2 separate regions of the Homo sapiens genome follow, and region 2 is linked to region 1. The links come from fine-mapping of genetic effects on gene expression. Tissue or cell type: whole blood. Region 1 holds a variant in brackets; the other region holds the start of a gene. All regions are shown on one strand. Distances are between the middles of the regions.

What was found. PIP is the estimated chance that this variant, and not a neighbour inherited with it, causes the effect.
Region 2: it holds the start of ITPK1, and the variant in region 1 is fine-mapped to the expression of ITPK1 in whole blood (INTERVAL, PIP above 0.99).

What each region holds. Positions count from the first base shown.
Region 1 is chr14:93,062,692-93,070,691 of GRCh38, forward strand. The region is part of intron 3 of ITPK1 (inositol-tetrakisphosphate 1-kinase); the gene reads right to left. ITPK1-AS1 (ITPK1 antisense RNA 1) reads left to right here and starts at 4,761. Exons shown (of 1, transcript NR_002808.2): 1 at 4,761-8,000. The variant C/CT (reference allele first, on the strand shown) is at 3,716.
Region 2 is chr14:93,111,447-93,119,446 of GRCh38, forward strand. It overlaps ITPK1 (inositol-tetrakisphosphate 1-kinase), which reads right to left and starts at 4,479. Exons shown (of 11, transcript NM_014216.6): 1 at 4,326-4,479; 2 at 3,623-3,859. The coding sequence starts at 3,717.

The sequences.
Region 1 (8,000 bases):
CCCACGGCAGGTCTGTGCTATTTGAAGTCGTAAAGCAGGTCAATGGTGGCCCAGTGTGAGGGGCTGCAGGGGCTGCCAGGCTCACAGTCAAGGCCAGGGCCTGGCCTACCATACACCAAGGCGTTTCATCTTCTCCCCAAGAAGATATACTGGGTGGGCAGGGGTCCTTGTCCCTGATGGACAAAGGAAGGCACTGAGGGCTCAGACAGCAAAAATAACCGAGGGTCCTGAGCGATCCGGCGGAATATTTGGTCGACAGGAAAACTCATCAAGTCCTGCCCTCACCAGGCCCCAAAGCCCTGGCTTAAGGGAGGGCCAGGCCTGGCATTTGTCAAGATTTAACAAGTTCAGTAAATGTGCGCCCCCACCCCACCCCCATCTCCCATCTCTCTCCCACGCCAGACCCTTCTCCAAGCCCCACTCCTTGGCCATTAGCTCAGTCCCAAAGGCATCCTTGCCCATCCCGGCTGCCGATGATCCTGTCAAAACACTGTAAATAACTTATTTCTACTTGGCAGGGCCTGCGGCAAAAATACTGCCTGGGCAAGGAAGGGAGTGAGCCAAGGTCTGCCTCCAAGCCAGGACCCACACCCTCCTGCCCAGGGACCCCTGGTCCCCCACCCACCTGAGATGGCAGAGACCCACAGTGGAGGCCAAACTCCTGCCCAGTGAGACAGGGGTGTGAGCTTCACAAGACCCCTCGAGTCATCTCAGGAGCCAGAAAACCAGTGAGCTTCCCACTCCCCACAGCCCCACACAGCACACTAAGCCCTGTCCCTGACCTCAGGCTACCCACGCTTCTCCTACGAGGGCCTGAGTTTTAGAAGGCCTTCTCACTTGCCCTCCCCTCGTCTCAATCATCCATCTCATCACCATCTGGTAGATGGGCCTCAGAGAGGTTGTGCCACTACCCAGGACTGCACAGCCTTGGAGGGATGGAGCTGGAACTAGGGAGGAGTCACTGGACTCTCACCAGGCAGGCAGTCTTCGGAGCAGAAGAGGCACTGGCTATGCCATCACACCTCTAGAATCCAATCCCAGCTCCACAGCTCACATGCTAGGCTGTGACAAGCCCACCTGTGTGAGCCTCAGTCCTCTCACCTGGCAAGTGGGGCACTAACCCTGGCACTCAGTAGACGAGGCACACACAGGAGTTCTCACTGCTGCTGCCTGGGCTGCTCATAGAAGCCCAGCCCAGACGCCAAACGCACTTTGGAATTTTTACATGCGCATTCTAGAACTCTGAAGCAATCCTACTAGGTGCTTACTGCCCAGACAACAGGGCTGGTGACCTTTAAAAAAAAAAAATTGGCCGGGCATGGTGGCTCACACCTGTAATCCCAGCACTTTGGGAGGCCAAGGTGGGTGGATCACGAGGTCAGGAGATTGAGACCATCCTGGCTAACATGGTGAAACCCTGTCTCTACCAAAAATACAAAAAATTAGCCGGGCGTGGTGGCGGGCACCTGTAGTCCCAGCTACTTGGGAGGCTGAGGCAGAAGAATGGCGTGAACGTGGGAGGCAGAGCTTGCAGTGAGCCGAGGTCGCGCCACTGCACTCCAGCCTGGGCGACAGAGCGAGACTCCATCTCAAAAAATAAAAATTAAAATTTTCGTAGAGATGGGGTCTCACTATGTCGCCCAGGCTGGTCTTGAACTCCAGGCTTCAAGCAATTCTCCTGCCTTGGCCTCTCAAAGTGTTGGGATTACAGACACAGGCCATCATGCCTGGCTGCTGGTGGCCTTCCTGCAGAGAATCCAGGAGCTCTAAATGTTCCCCCAGGACACCTGATCAAAGCCCCCTCTCAGGCCTCTGTACCCCATTCCCACCGGAACCCTGGGAGCCACCCCAGGCGGCTTCTGTAGAAGTGCTGAGTGAGCCCCATGCACCACCGCCAAGTTTCTGGGACACAGCTGCAGGGCCGGGCACCAGCAAGCCGGGATCTCCTTATAGGGTATACTCTAAGGCCATTGCATAAAGCTCAAAAAGAGAAAGACTCAGATTGACAGTCGAGCTGGAAAACAGGCCTGTGAAAGGAGAACTAGACACCAGGGCAATCAGGTCCCTGAAAGGGCTGTCTCTGCCTACCATTTGTGCAGAACATCAGAGAACTTGAGGCAAAGACGGGAGCCACTGTGCTTCCCAGGGGAGTTCTTGAGCTGAGGGTGGATCAAGGGGAAGGAGAAAGACAGAGCCAAGTTACAACTCTGGATTTACACAGCTTTTGGAAAAGTCACGATGAGTGTGCGGGGAATCCCTGGGACCTCCCCTGCCCATAATGAACTAGCACGGGAGGGGGTCATGGGGCTAGGGTCAGGGGTCAGCACTCCCTGGGGGTGATGCCTTCACCCCATCATGGCTAGACCTGGGGAGATCCAGAAAGAAGGAAAACATAAATCAGCCCATGCCCCCAAATGCACCCCAGCCAGAGCAAAATCTGCTCTAACCCCAGAGGACAAGCTGGGACCTCACTCACTCACAGCAGGAGACTCATCCCTGGTCAGCCCTGCTTTAGCCAAACCAAACAGACATAACTTATGCTACAGACATTTCTGGCTTTTTTACTCATGAAAATAAATCAAACAGAAGAGATCCTTTCATTTTGGCTCATCTACCCATCGCATCATTTAACTACACAACACACCTCATTCAGACTCACGCTTCCCTGGGCCACTGAGGATGACAATGATGGTGGTGGAGGTGGCACCAGTAAATAATCACAAACAGCTCCTTCTGAGGACAAACTAGGTAAACAGGTTCTGTGCTGTTCCTTATCTGCATGACCTCACTCCTGGAACTCTATGAGACTGGGTCCATTATTATTTCCATTTTACAGAAGAATAAACTGAGGCTTAGAGGGGGCAAGTAACCTGTCCAGTTCTAAGTCCAGGGCCCAAGTGTGCTGGACACAGCTGACTAGCTGCAGCCCAACCTGTCCCCCATTCTCCCCTTCTTCTTTAGCAACAAAATCCTGAAGTCACTTCTAGACCATAACCCAATGAAACAGCCTGAGATGTGACTTAGGTCCCCAAAGATTTAGGTCCAGAGACACCCAGGGCAGGACTGTTAGTAACAGCAAACCAGAAATAACCTAGAACTTGAGACTCTGGAGCAGAGAAATGGTTCTAGATGCTGGGACATAGGGATGGTGGGAAGCTGGTGCAGCCACTCTAACAGCAATTTCCAAGGTGTTTAAATGGCACAGGCAAATGCTCAACTGTTCCCCCAAATGCAAGTGGCAAAACTAGGGACACAGAAAAGCCTAACCTGAATGCACATCATATAGAAAAAGGAGCATATTTTATGTAAAAATTGCTTCAATAATTATCTCTGGGTTTTCATTTGTGAGCCTATCTTGACTTCCCAAGATTTCCACAAGTACATATTACTTAATGAGCAAAAGAATAATCTAGAGTTATTTTTAGCAAGCACAGACCCTCGAGGCCTGGCCACATCCTGTGTAGCACAATACCTCAGTCCTTAATTCACTCACCCAGTAGACACAGCGCACATCAGGGCCAGACCACGTGCTCCTCAGAGACCAGCAAGTCCCAGCCTCAGGAGGACACACCAACAGGCAGCTCAGCTTGGTGTGCGTGCGTGTGTGCGCGTGCATGTGTGTGTGTGTATGTGTGTGTGTGTGTGTGTGTAGGGGGCAGAGGCGTCTGCTGGGAAAGCAGGGTAGGTGTCACTGCCAAGGTGACATTTAGCAATT[C/CT]TTTTTTTTTTTTTTTTTGAGACGGAGTCTTGCTCTGTCACAGGCTAGAGTTCAGTGGCGCGATCTCGGCTCACTGCAAGCTCCGCCTCCCGCGTTCGCGCCATTCTCCTGCCTCAGCCTCCTGAGTAGCTGGGACTACAGGCACCTGCCACCACGCCCAGCTAATTTTTTGTATTTTTAGTAGAGACAGGGTTTCACCGTGTTAGCCAGGATGGTCTCGATCTCCTGACCTCATGATCCACCCGCCTCGGCCTCCCAAAGTGCTGGGATTACAGGTGTGAGCCACTGCACCCACCTGACATTTAGCAGTTCTAAAAGCATGAATAAAAATATGAGAGCAGGGAAGGGGCTGAAGAGGGAGATGCCAGGTCCTTACTCAACTGAAATACTCAGGGACGCTTCCTGGTCTTTGGAACTGACCTGAGGCAATGCATCTCCATTCCTGGCTTTGACTACGATGGTTCTGCGCCCAGCTGGACAAGGAGCACAGTCCAGGGCCCTCAGGTCAAGATGCCTCCTCCTCAGAGTCTCAGCCCTGCACCAGGCCAAACGGGAACCGACTGCTGAGGAATCCAGTGTTTGCATCCGAGTTTCTCCATCTGCACCCAGATTCCCTAGGATCACACTCTGAGTAGCAATGCTATGGATACCTTCACCCCAGAATGCCAGGACAGTCAGCTACTTTAAGAGCAGAATCTTGCTTCTGGCCCTTTCTAAAACCCCCGTTCCATCCCTTCCTATTTCCCCTGTGTACTTCATTCCATCTCTTTTCTTTGCTTTTACGTAAAATGCTTACCTGGCACGCTCCACTGAGGCCACGGAATTCTTGACATTTGACAGCCAAGCAAGGGTGGCAGGTACCAGGGAGATCCAGTCCCAACCCTGCGTGGTGTGGTGAGGAGGGCCTGGGGTTCTGGAAGCCTGCCTGCAAGAAGGCACCCAGGCACCCTGGAGCACAGGGAGCCCCACCTGCCCTGGCAGAGCTCTGTTGTCTTGACATGGGATGTGGGAACTTTTTTTTTTTTTTAAAGGATTTGCTCAAATTGACTCAGTGCATCAAAGGCTGGAGAAAGAATCACCCTAGAACTGAGTGCCACAGGCTTCGGAAGCTGCACAAGACTGCAACACGGTGACAGCTTCTATTTCTAACAGCAAACCTAAAAAGCTCAGGAACCAAAATAAAACGGATAGAAATGAAACCACTCAGAGTATGACGACAGTACTCAAAGCAACTCACGAGCATTTCCCCACGCTGTCTTCCAAAATGTGAAAAATGTGATTTTTTTTTAATGGCCACATTGGAGAACTGCTATGAGCAGACCTCATTTATATAACCCTTCCCAGCACCTCATGTATCATCATTATTAAAAAACACTATGGGGATCATGCTTTCACATAACTTTGTCTTATTTGTTATCTACATAGCCTAAGCAAATAGTAAATGATGGAGAATGAAAATAATTGTCAATGTTTAGGGGGAAAAAAATACCTGCATTTCAAATTTTTTAAAAAAACCATAAAATCTATCTTTTAAAAAAGGAAGGAGTAAGCTGGAATCCACAATTGTTAGAAACCCAAAAGTGATACAGAGGGGAGGCAAAAAAAAAAAAAAAATACTATATTCTCCACACTGAAACAATGTATCTTTCTCAACAGCCCAGTTTCATCTGTAGCTGTATTTTCCCCACTGAAATGCCACCATTAATCATAACAACAGATGAGTAAAAATCAATTAATATTCCTTCAGCATCTCTTAGGTGTCTTCAATCCTGTGCGCTGTCATCCCTTTAAAGAGGAAGGAAAAGATCCACAGCCAGGAAACAGACTCAGAAACTCAAACCCAGGTCTCTGGACCCCACAGGGAAGTGAGGCACAGCCAAGAGCAATCTGTGTCCATTACTGGCCTCAAATGACCACATGGAAACACTGTGTGCAGAGCCAGCCCCCCAAGCCCGTGGCGGTCCTCCTTGGAGATGATGGGGTCTGGGGAGAGGTCAGAGTCAGGCTCACGTGAACTTCAGAAAGCCACTGCCCAGGATATGGGTGGACCGCAAGTCTACCATGGGCTGTCCCAGCTCCAAAGACGTCAGAACCCCACAGCGATTGTTATTCCCAAAGCCCTTTACGCTTGGCTCCACAGCACACGGCAGAGAAAATCGACAGAAGGAAGGATGTTCACAGGTGTCCACCCCTACCTATGCCCCAGTGACCTGGAAATAAAATCCATCAAGAGCACCGGGGTCAGCCAGCTGGGGTACGCTGGAGAGTATGGGTGGCAGAGGGAACCCCGCTGTGGATTGATCATTTGACACTGTGTTCAGCATACCTTTTAAAAAAATGTTGGTACCATGTAAAAATATAACCTAAATAACAAGTACATTTTTAATGCTGAGATGGAGAATTTAGCACCTATAATCCTTCCAGAGATGCACACCACGCAACCACGTGAGTCCCCTCTGGCTCTGAATTCCGAGAGCAGCTACCAACACAGGCCTCCGCTGCCTGCACTCAGCACACCTATCGGAAAGCGCCAGTGCTGGCATGGGCTTTCCCTCCCTGGCGGCTGCTCCTCCTGCACCCCCATGCCCAGGCACTCCGGCCAGAAACAAGGGAGGAGTCTGGGGACTGATCCTCCCCCTCTCACCTCCCACATCTACCCAGGTACCACACCCTGCCATCTGTCTCCTGCTGCCCTCTGTCACTGCAGGAGCCCCTGGAGAGCACATCACCCCTCACTAGGCTGCAGCCACAGCCCCTCTCAGAAAACCCTGCTGTCTGCTTTCCAGTGCAGCCCTGTCTAATCACCCTCCATGTATCCTCCCCATGGCTCTTCCCCCATAGCCTCAGGTTGGAGCACCCAGCTTTCGCCTGCAGAAGCCCCTCCATGCCCCCGACACAGCACCCCATGAACAACTCACCTGGCACCGCTACTCTCTCCAGCCTGGTCTCTCACTAGCCCCCTCAAGCCTGGGGCTGTAGCCTTTCCAAGCCATTGGCAGCCAAAGGACCCCCTTCCCCAGCTGCTGTGTGTGGCCCTGGCCATGCTCCTTGTCTGTAAGGCCATTCTAACACCTCGCCTCCTGCCAGCCCCTACGCCCAGTTTATTCCATGTCAGGAGGTATGGCCTCCATCCCCTGATGGCCCACTCCTCCTTACATGCCCAGCCTTGCGTCCTCACCACTCCCCCACAGCTCAGACAGGCCTGCCCTGCCCCTGGGCTTGGGCATCCCCACGGTTTCCCTGCCAGTGGGCATCCCCACAGTTCCTTCGCCTCCAGAGGCCCAGCACCCAGTTCTGCCTCGGCCCCAGGCACATGGACCTTCCCTTGGGTCTTAGTGTCTCTTTCTCAGACTTGCCTTTTCTTGGTGGTTTGATGGTCACCCACCCAACCTCCTTCCCTGAAAGTCTGGTGCAGGAAGGGGTAAAAACACATATACAAAGGTCACCAGCAAGCCAGCCAGCACCAGCTCTGGAGAAAACACGGACAGAAAGACGTATGCCCACCATTCACTCATTCGCAAGCCGGGAGAACTTACTTACTTCCTTGCCTGCTTGAGAAACAGCCGCCGCACCAGAGACTGGGTTTCATAGTGTCTGAATTCTCAAGGAATGTGGATGGAGGACAGTGAATCTCTAACTGGCTGCTGCACTTCTCACACTTACAGCTTGCTCATTCGCACTTTAAAGTCAAACCTCGAGTCCCCTCATGCCAGCAGTCACCTTCTCCCCGATCTTTTACAGTAACTGGGGAAAGGCAGCCCAGAGAACAGGCCAGGGCAGAGGTCAGGCTGCAAAACATGCTTCCCTAAGGACGTCCAGGCTGGAGGGGGCCCGGCAGCAGGTGGGTCTTTCTTTCAGGGTCTTCCTCCACCAAATTCAGGACTATTCCAGAAAGAGGCAGTGAGTCCCTGGATGGGGAAACCGCTCCTCCTGAGCCTTCCCCACAGATTGGATCGGAGTGGAAGGTGCCCCCAGGTGACAGCACCTAGCAAGGCTGATGCAGGCCTTCTGCCTGGCCCACAGGAGAGCCCCAGCCCCACTCCCCAGATCACAGACGACCAAGGCTCCTGTGTACGGGGGAAGTAATCATAGTGCCGTGCTTGGCACTTGGTCATTTTAGCAACTAGGTGTTTTAGAAGGAAGCACAAGGACCTAGGAACTGGGTTGAGCTCTGTCAGGCCTTGCCTCTCAGTTAGGATCTGTTGGGTAGATGGGCTCATTGCCACTAACCAGACTCGTCTTCCAGGGAGCCTTCCTGATTTACCAGGCTGCGTGAGGGCCCTCC
Region 2 (8,000 bases), 49 kb after region 1:
ATGCCTGTAATCCCAGCACTCTGGGAGGGCAAGGCAGGCGGATCACCTGAGGTCAGGAGTTCGAGACCAGCCTGGACAACATGGTAAAACTCCATCTCCACTAAAAATACAAAAATTAGCCAGGCGTGGTGGTGCGCACCTGTAATCCCAGCTACTCAGGAGGCTGAGGCAGGAGAATAGCTTGAACCTGGGAGGCGGAGGTTGCAGTGAGCCGAGATTGCGCCACTGCACTCCAGGCTGGGCGACAAAGCGAGACTCCACCTCAAAAAAAAAAAAAAAAAGCCACAAAGAGGGGGTGGTGTGGGAGACCTACAAGGTTGCTCCCAGGCTAGGGAAGGCAGGTGGGAGGGGTACAAGAGAACACAACCAGAGCCGTGTCCCCAGAGAAAGGGGAAGAAACAGGATGGCAACAGGAACAAACAGTACCACTGACAAACAAGTGGATTCAAAGGCCCATCTGCTGGCTAGCAGAGCCCCATCCTATCAGAGTGCACATCTGAAAAGGCTGGCGCCTGTCCCTACCTACGGCAGGTGGGGCACTTCATGGCCCATGAAGTGGCTCTAACCACCCACTGTTGCCATCAACGTGCACTACCCCCCAAACCCTCCCCCCAAGACAAGGATTACACTTGCAGAGGGGCTCAGCTTTGCAAGGAATGTGTCCTGGGGGCTAAATAGCAGCCACCAGACCCCTGGAAAGATAATGAGGGAGACTGCCTTATTGTCGGAGATGCCCAATCAGAAAGGCAATCTCAAGGTAGCCAGGTTGGACCCATTCTAGAAGTTAAAGGAAAAGACCAAGAGTCCGGAACCTGCCCCCTCTCTTGATGGGTTTCCCCATCTGTAAGACAAAGGGGCTAGATGAGATGATGGCCAACATCTCTTCCTGCTCTGAGATCAGATTTTTACAAGGCCGGACATTCAGCTAAACAACCCACCCCGGGCCGGACCATTCGGGTCATTCTTTGCCCAAACATTAAGAGCAGGGCCATTTTTTTTTTTTTTTTTTTTGAGATGGAGTCTCGCTCTGTCACCCAAGCTAGAGTGCAGTGGCACCATCTCGACTTACTGCAACCTCTGCCTCCCGGGTTCAAGTGATTCTCCTGCCTCAGCCTCCTGAGTAGCTGGGACTACAGGCGCCTGCCATCATGCCCGGCTAATTTTTGTATTTTTAGTAGAGATGGGGTTTCACCATGTTAGCCAGGATGGTCTCGATCTCCTGACCTCGTGACCCACCCACCTTGGACTCCCAAAGTGCTGGGATTACAGACAGAAGACACGGCACCCGGCCCAAAGCAGGGCCATTTTCAAATACCTTTAGACTTTTTCATTAGGGAATTCATAGACAATTCATCACCCGTCGTCAGTACAGAAGCCCTGCGCCCCCAGATTCTGAATGTGGAAAACATGATAATGTCCTTTGCACTGTCTCTCAGCCACTAAAGTCTCATTGGCCCTCACACCAAACAAAACAACCTCACGGGGCTCCCTGGTCACTGGCTCAACAGTTGCAGCATTTTGCAGCCAGTATAGAAATGTGGCCACCAGGGGGCACTGCCCTGAAAGTAATAAATAAGAAACGGAAAAACTCTTTGGTGTTTTCTTTTCCTTCTTAGGCTTAAGTGATAAAATATCTAAAGCTTCCCTAGTGAAAACACAAAGTGGGCTTCCTCGGGTTCTAGAATGGCCCTGATGACTTCTGCCTTCTTTGAAGCCAATATTTTGGCCAAAGGAAGGCAACTAGACTTTGAAGACAACAACTCTTTCAGAGAAAGTAATGCTCTACTCCCCAGAACGTTGATAGCATAGCTTGCTCTGAACCTCCCACCCCTTTAAAGGAAGAATGTCTACAAGGTCAAGCCAATCTGCAGGTCCAGCACGAGGACCTAGTTGTGAGTCTCGGCGAAGAATATTTTGCGAGAGCCTCCTAATTACCAAGCAAAACAAGCCAACCCAATGACAAGCCTCAAGCTTGAGTTGCAGACACAAGATGACATAAATACAGACAGCAGTACAAAGGGTGCGAGGTATTCGCTGGGATTTCCCAAGTCTTACATGACTGCAGGGGGAGCTCCGGTGCCTCACATCAGAACTGGACTTCGAGAACATGCCAAAGCAGCTGCTCCAAATTTCTTTAGTGTCTTAGAATGCCCTTCCCACAAGTGAGTGTATCCGCGGTACAACGTTCAAGTACCCTTTTGTAATGTTCCAAGGGTCCTAAGACTCATTTTCAAAGCTCTGGCTTCGAGCTCCTCCTGATTTCTTCATGAATTGCTGGGGCCACTCTGCATGCCCTATTGATCATGAAGAGCCTGTCTTCTAGGGAAACCGGCCTGGGAGAAGGCAGCCAACCCCATCCCCAGACCAAGGGATAAAGAACCAGGCACTATCCTGTACAAGCTGTGCCCCTCTGGCTGCAGGAAGAGCGCCTGCGGGGCTTGCACGGGGCAAAGGAGCAGCAGGCCCTTGGGAAAGGCATGAGGCACACAGAGGTGCTGCCAGGCTCACCTGCGCATGCCAGCTCAGACCAGCCACGGGCCCCCAGGAGCACCAGGGGTTACGGAAACCCAACTGTTCAATTCTCCAAGATGTGTGGGGCCCCCACAGGGACAAAAATGCAAGTAGAGCCCATTTTCAAAAATCAGTCTAACAAGCTGCATCACAAAAGGTTTCCACCTGGAGTTTGCAAAAGGCTTTCAGAGCTAGATTCTCTTAGGCTTGCATTGAGAAAAGGGCTTAACTGCTTCTCAGAGGCAAAGCTACAGTTGTGGAGCAAGGGAAGGCCTACCTGACCCAAGACTCAGTAGTTCTGTAATTTATTAAGAACGTGATCTGTTAAACACCGGAGACTCCGCCAAGGAGCACCAGCATGGTGGGAGCAGGGGCACACAGCCCAGATGGCAGAAGGCCACTCCACACCACGGGCATTTACCCAGCACTTTCTACGCACCAGCCACTCCCTAGCTGCGGGACCCCAAGCTAGGTACCCCGCTCCTCTGCCGATCGGTCCCCGTTCTCAGACAGGTGGCCCAGAATCACCACCCTGGCCAATTTGCAGGGCTGCTGCGAGGCTCTAATGAGACAGCAAATCACCACATACATGCCAAGAATTGCTACTCGCTTCAACTGGGCTTAACCTCATGATATGCAATGACAGCCTCAAGAGCCGAGCACACGCGGGGCACATAGTAGGTGGTCCACAAACGTGGGTGCCCTTTCTTCATGAAAGGGAAGGGGACGAAGGAAGAAAAACACTCCGGTCCAAAAGTACCCTCAAGCCCTTACCCCACAGCGTGGATGCCCCGATTTCCCAGGTCCCTCCGCAACCCTCAGTAGAACTCCCACCGCGCCCTGGGCTGCTGGGGGCCTCCCCAGCCGGGTCACAGTGCACCTGAACGCCCCGGTCCGTGCCACCTCGCCCGCACCGGCCACCGCTTCCCTGGAACGCGGCCGGCGGCCGCCACCGCCACCTGGCTGCTCGGACTCAGTCTCCCCGCGCGCCGCTTCTTCCCGTTTGGCTCCGATCTCCCAAAACAACTAATGAGGCTGCACCGGGCTCGGGCCGGGGGTCACCGGGCTCGGGCCGGGGGTCCCCGGGCGCCGGCGCCGCGTCCCTCCTTACCTGCACAGCTCGGCGAAGGCCTGGAAATTCAGCTTCTTGATTTTCTTCTCGCTCAGCCAGTAGCCAACTCTCTTCCCTTTCAGAAAGGTCTGCATCTTCCTCCTCGGGCGGGGAGCCTGGGTCCGGAGGAAATCGCCCACAGGCCGAGTCTGGCGGCCGGCGCGCGCCGCGAGCGAGTGGGCACCTCCTCCCGGCGGCGGGGACGCGGAACGGGGATCGGAGCTGGGGCGCGCAGTCCTGCCGCGCGGAGCGGAGCGGGGCGGGGCGCGGCGGGCGGCCGGGAGGAGGGAGCGGCGCTCAGCGCGGAAGGCCACTGGCTGGGCCAAGCTGCCACCGCCCACGCCCCCGCCGCCTGCGGGCTCGCCCGCCCGCCCACCGGCTCGCGAGCGCCGCGCCGCCCGGCCTGCCGGCTGAGGCTGGGGCACGGCTGAGCCTGAGTCTGAGTCGGAGCTGGGGCCAGGGCCCGCAGGAGGGGAAGCCGGGCCTCCGCAGACACCGCCCCCGCCCTGCCCGCCCTCCCGCCGCGCGGGCCCGAGCCACACGCCCTCAGGCGGCGGCAGAAGCGCGGCCTCCGAGCCCTTCCTCCCTCCTCCTCCCGCCCGGGTCCTCGCCCTCTGATGTTCCCAGCCGGGCCGTAACCCCTGGGCGCGCTTGGACCCCGGCGGGGCGCACGCGGCCACTCGGCCCGGCCAGAGATCCTCACCCGCCGCCGCCGCCGCCACTTCCTCCTCGGCCTGGTCCTCGCGCGCTGCCCGCCGAGAAGGGCGGCGGCGAGCGCCCGCGCACTCGCCGCCCCTGCCCGCCGCCGCCCCGCGCTGGCCCGGCCGCCCCGCTTGAGCCCGCGGCGGCGAGGAAGCGGCGGGGCGGCCGCCAGGGGGCAGCGCCGCCCGCCGCCTCTTAAAGGCGCCGCGCCGGCCCTCGCGGCTACCCGGCGCCTGTTTGTGTCCCCGGGTGTGGGGTGCGGGGCGCGGGGCTTCCTGGGGGCGGCCGTGGCCCGGCGGTCTTACTTCGGGAAGGGAGCCGCGGTGTGGGCGTGTGTTCCGCCTGGCCTTTGGGGGCGACCGAGCCGCTGAGTTTCGGAAACGTCTCTGTACCCCCAGCAGGGTTCAGCACCCCCAAGGCAATCCATTGCAACTGCGCCCGGAAGGAGACCTTCCAGGAATTCGCCCCTTCCCTCGAGGAAGCGGACCCTGGCCCAGGATGGGGCCCCCCGGGGGGGTGGGTGAACACCCAGGGGCCCTCCTAGGCGTAGGACGTGACCACCAGTTCTCACTCTAGGTCCCCTTCACTGAGGGGGGAAGGGGCGGGGACTGGAGGCGACAGCGACAACAGCGGCCGTCCCCGGAGACCCCTTCCTCAGGGGTGCGGGTCAGCGTCGGCGCCGGGGAGTCACTAAACCCCGCCTACCCTGCCCTGCCCTATGGGGCAGCCAGGGAGCTTTCCTGCCTCAATGGTCTCTGGGTTTGGGAAGGAGAAATGGACTTCTCTCCCCAGGCCCAGGCAGGAAAAATGGATTCCCGTGGAGGGAAGGCTCAGAAAAGTTTGAGAGGAGACACTGAAGCTGGCCTTGGAAATCAAGGAGATTTTGATGGAGCAGGGAAGGGGGATGAGCTTGAATTGAGGCTGGGAGACAAGAAAAAGCCAAGTTGCCAGCGGGTGACCAAGACTTCCCTTGATCACACTTGAGTCAGGCTCCTCCGAGACCTCTTTCTGACCAGGCCCCGACCTTGGGCTCTGTCCTTGGCCTTCTTAGTCCAGTTTTAGCCAGAATCCTGCTGTCAAGAATATCTCCACGCTTGGTATGTGATCACCCTGGCCGGCCTACATTAAGAAACTCCGTCTCAAAAAAAAAAGAAAGACAAGGATCTCTCTATGCTGCCCAGGCTGGAGTGCAATGGTGCAGTCATAGCTCACTGCAGCCTCGAACACCCCTGCTAAACTGATCCTCCCACCTCAGCCTCCCGAGCAGCTGGGACTACACTGTGTTGCCCAGGCAGGTCTCGAACTCCTGGCCTCAAGCTGTCCTCCCACCTGGGCCTCCCAAAGTGCTGGGATTGTAGACCTGAGCCACCCCGCCTGGCTTCCCTGCCATCTTTAACGAGAATCTGATTAGTTTTTTTCTTTAACAAGGTAGAGAAAACGGATGGATGGAGAGTGGAAAAGACGATGGGTGGGAAACAGGACTCCTCCAGGGGGCCAGCTAGGGACGGGCACTGCATGCCTTAGGCAAGGGTACTGCGAGTTTCATAGGCCATGGGAGCCTAGAAGGTAAGTGGTGACAGGTTCCAGGGTCAGCTCTGTGGCTTAGAATGCCTGGCTCCTGGGGGGGACATGGAAAGCTGGATAAAGGGAAGATCATAGCAAGGACCCCTAGGGCCGAGGCACAAGATGGATAAAAGAAGGCTAAGGGAGGCTGCGCATGGTGGCTCATGCCTGTAATCCCAGCACTTTGGGAGGCCGAGGTGGGCACATCATGAGGTCAGGAGATTGAGATCATCCTGGCTAACACGGTGAAACCCTGTCTCTACTAAAAATACAAAAAATTAGCCGGGCGTGGTGGCGGGCGCCTGTAGTCCCAGCTACTTGGGAGGCTAAGGCAGGAGAATGGCGTGAACCTGGGAGGCAGAGCTGGCAGTGAGCTGAGATCGTGCCACTGCACTCTAGCCTGGGCAACAGAGTGAGACTCCGTCTCAAAAAAAAAAAAAAAAAAAGAAGGCGGCTAAGGGAGTAAAAACGAAGGGGATGGGGGCAGCAACTATAAACTTGATACTTGAAGTCAGCAGTAGGGATTACAGGCATCGACTTTAAATGTCCTGCTGTTCTTAGGAACTGAAAGACCAGTTGAGGCTGGGTGGTTCAGGAGGGTTCCTGGAATTCCCTCACTCCTTTGGCAAACACACGAGAGCCCAGTGTGTGGCAGAGGAAAATGGACACAAGCCATTGATTAGAAACACGGGATGAGGCTGGGCGCTGGGAGGCCGAAGCAGGCGGATCACCTGAGATCAGGAGTTCGAGGCCAGCCTGACCAACATGGAGAAACCCCATCTCTACTAAAAATACAAAATTAGGTGGGCATGGTGGCGCATGCCTGTAATCCCAGCTACTTGGGAGGCTGAGGCAGGAGAATCGCTTGAACCAGAGAGGCGGAGGTTGCGGTCAGCCGAGGTCGCGCCATTGCACTCCAGCCTGGGCGGCAAGGGCAAAACTCCATCTCAAAAACAAAAAAAAGAAAGAAAAAAGGAAACGTGGGGTGAGAGCTGAGAGGGAAATGGGAAGGAAGATGGCAATCTGTCCCATTTTGCTGCATGACTGGGGAGACTGTGGCATAGGATCTTGAAGGATGAGTAGGAAGGAGTTCAGTGGGGGAAGGAGGCAACATTCCAGGCAAAGGCGAAAACAGGTGCGAAGTTTCAGAGGGTGAAAAGGGAAGAACACCGTAAATAAGGGCACGGTAAGATGGAGATGGGCAGGAAGATGAGGCCTGAGAAATGGACCAGGGGAACTTGGGAGGGATGCTGAAGACAGTGTGTGTGTGGTCACTTCTGAACAGGAGCTGGATGAAGTTCTTTTTTTTTCTTAATATTATTTTATTTTATCTTATTTTATTATTTTATTTTATTTTATTTTTTGAAATGGAGTCTTGTTGTGTCATCCAGGCTGGAGTCCAGTGCACCTCCCGGGTTCAAGCGATTCTCCTGCCTTGACCTCCCGGTAGCTGGGACTATTGGCACGTGTCACCACGCCCAGCTAATTTTTGTATTTTTTTTTTTTTTTGAGACGGAGTCTTGCTTTGTTGCCCAGACTGGAGTGCAGTGGCGCAATCTCGGCTCACTGCAAGCTCCACCTCCCGGGTTCATGCCATTCTCCTGCCTCAGCCTCCTGAGTAGCTGGGACTACAGGCGCCCGCCACCACGCCCGGCTAATTTTTTGTATTTTTAGTAGAGATGGGGTTTCACCGTGTTAACCAGGCTGGTCTCAAACTCCTGACCTCAAGTGATCTGCCTGCCTCGACCTCCCAAAGTGCTGGGATTACAGGCATGAGCCACCATGCCTGGCCTGGATGAAGTTCTTTTGGTATCTTCATCTGTAAAGTGGGGATAGATGCCCCACCCAGAGCTGTTGAGAAGATTTAAAGGGCCAGCAGAGAACTTGCCTGGAGGACAAAGTATATACAAGGGCATGGCCATCCTCAGGCTCACAGGAAGCCCCTTATTTAGGGCTCACCCCAGGGCCCTGCATCCTTCCCCTGATTACAGCCTCCCCCAAACCATTCTTCCTTCTGGCCTTCTGAGTTGGAGCTAGGTAAGGCTCGTCCTCACTGGGACTTCCAAGGTGAACACAAATGTCCTCTGTCTCTAGCTCTCAACTCGACCACTCA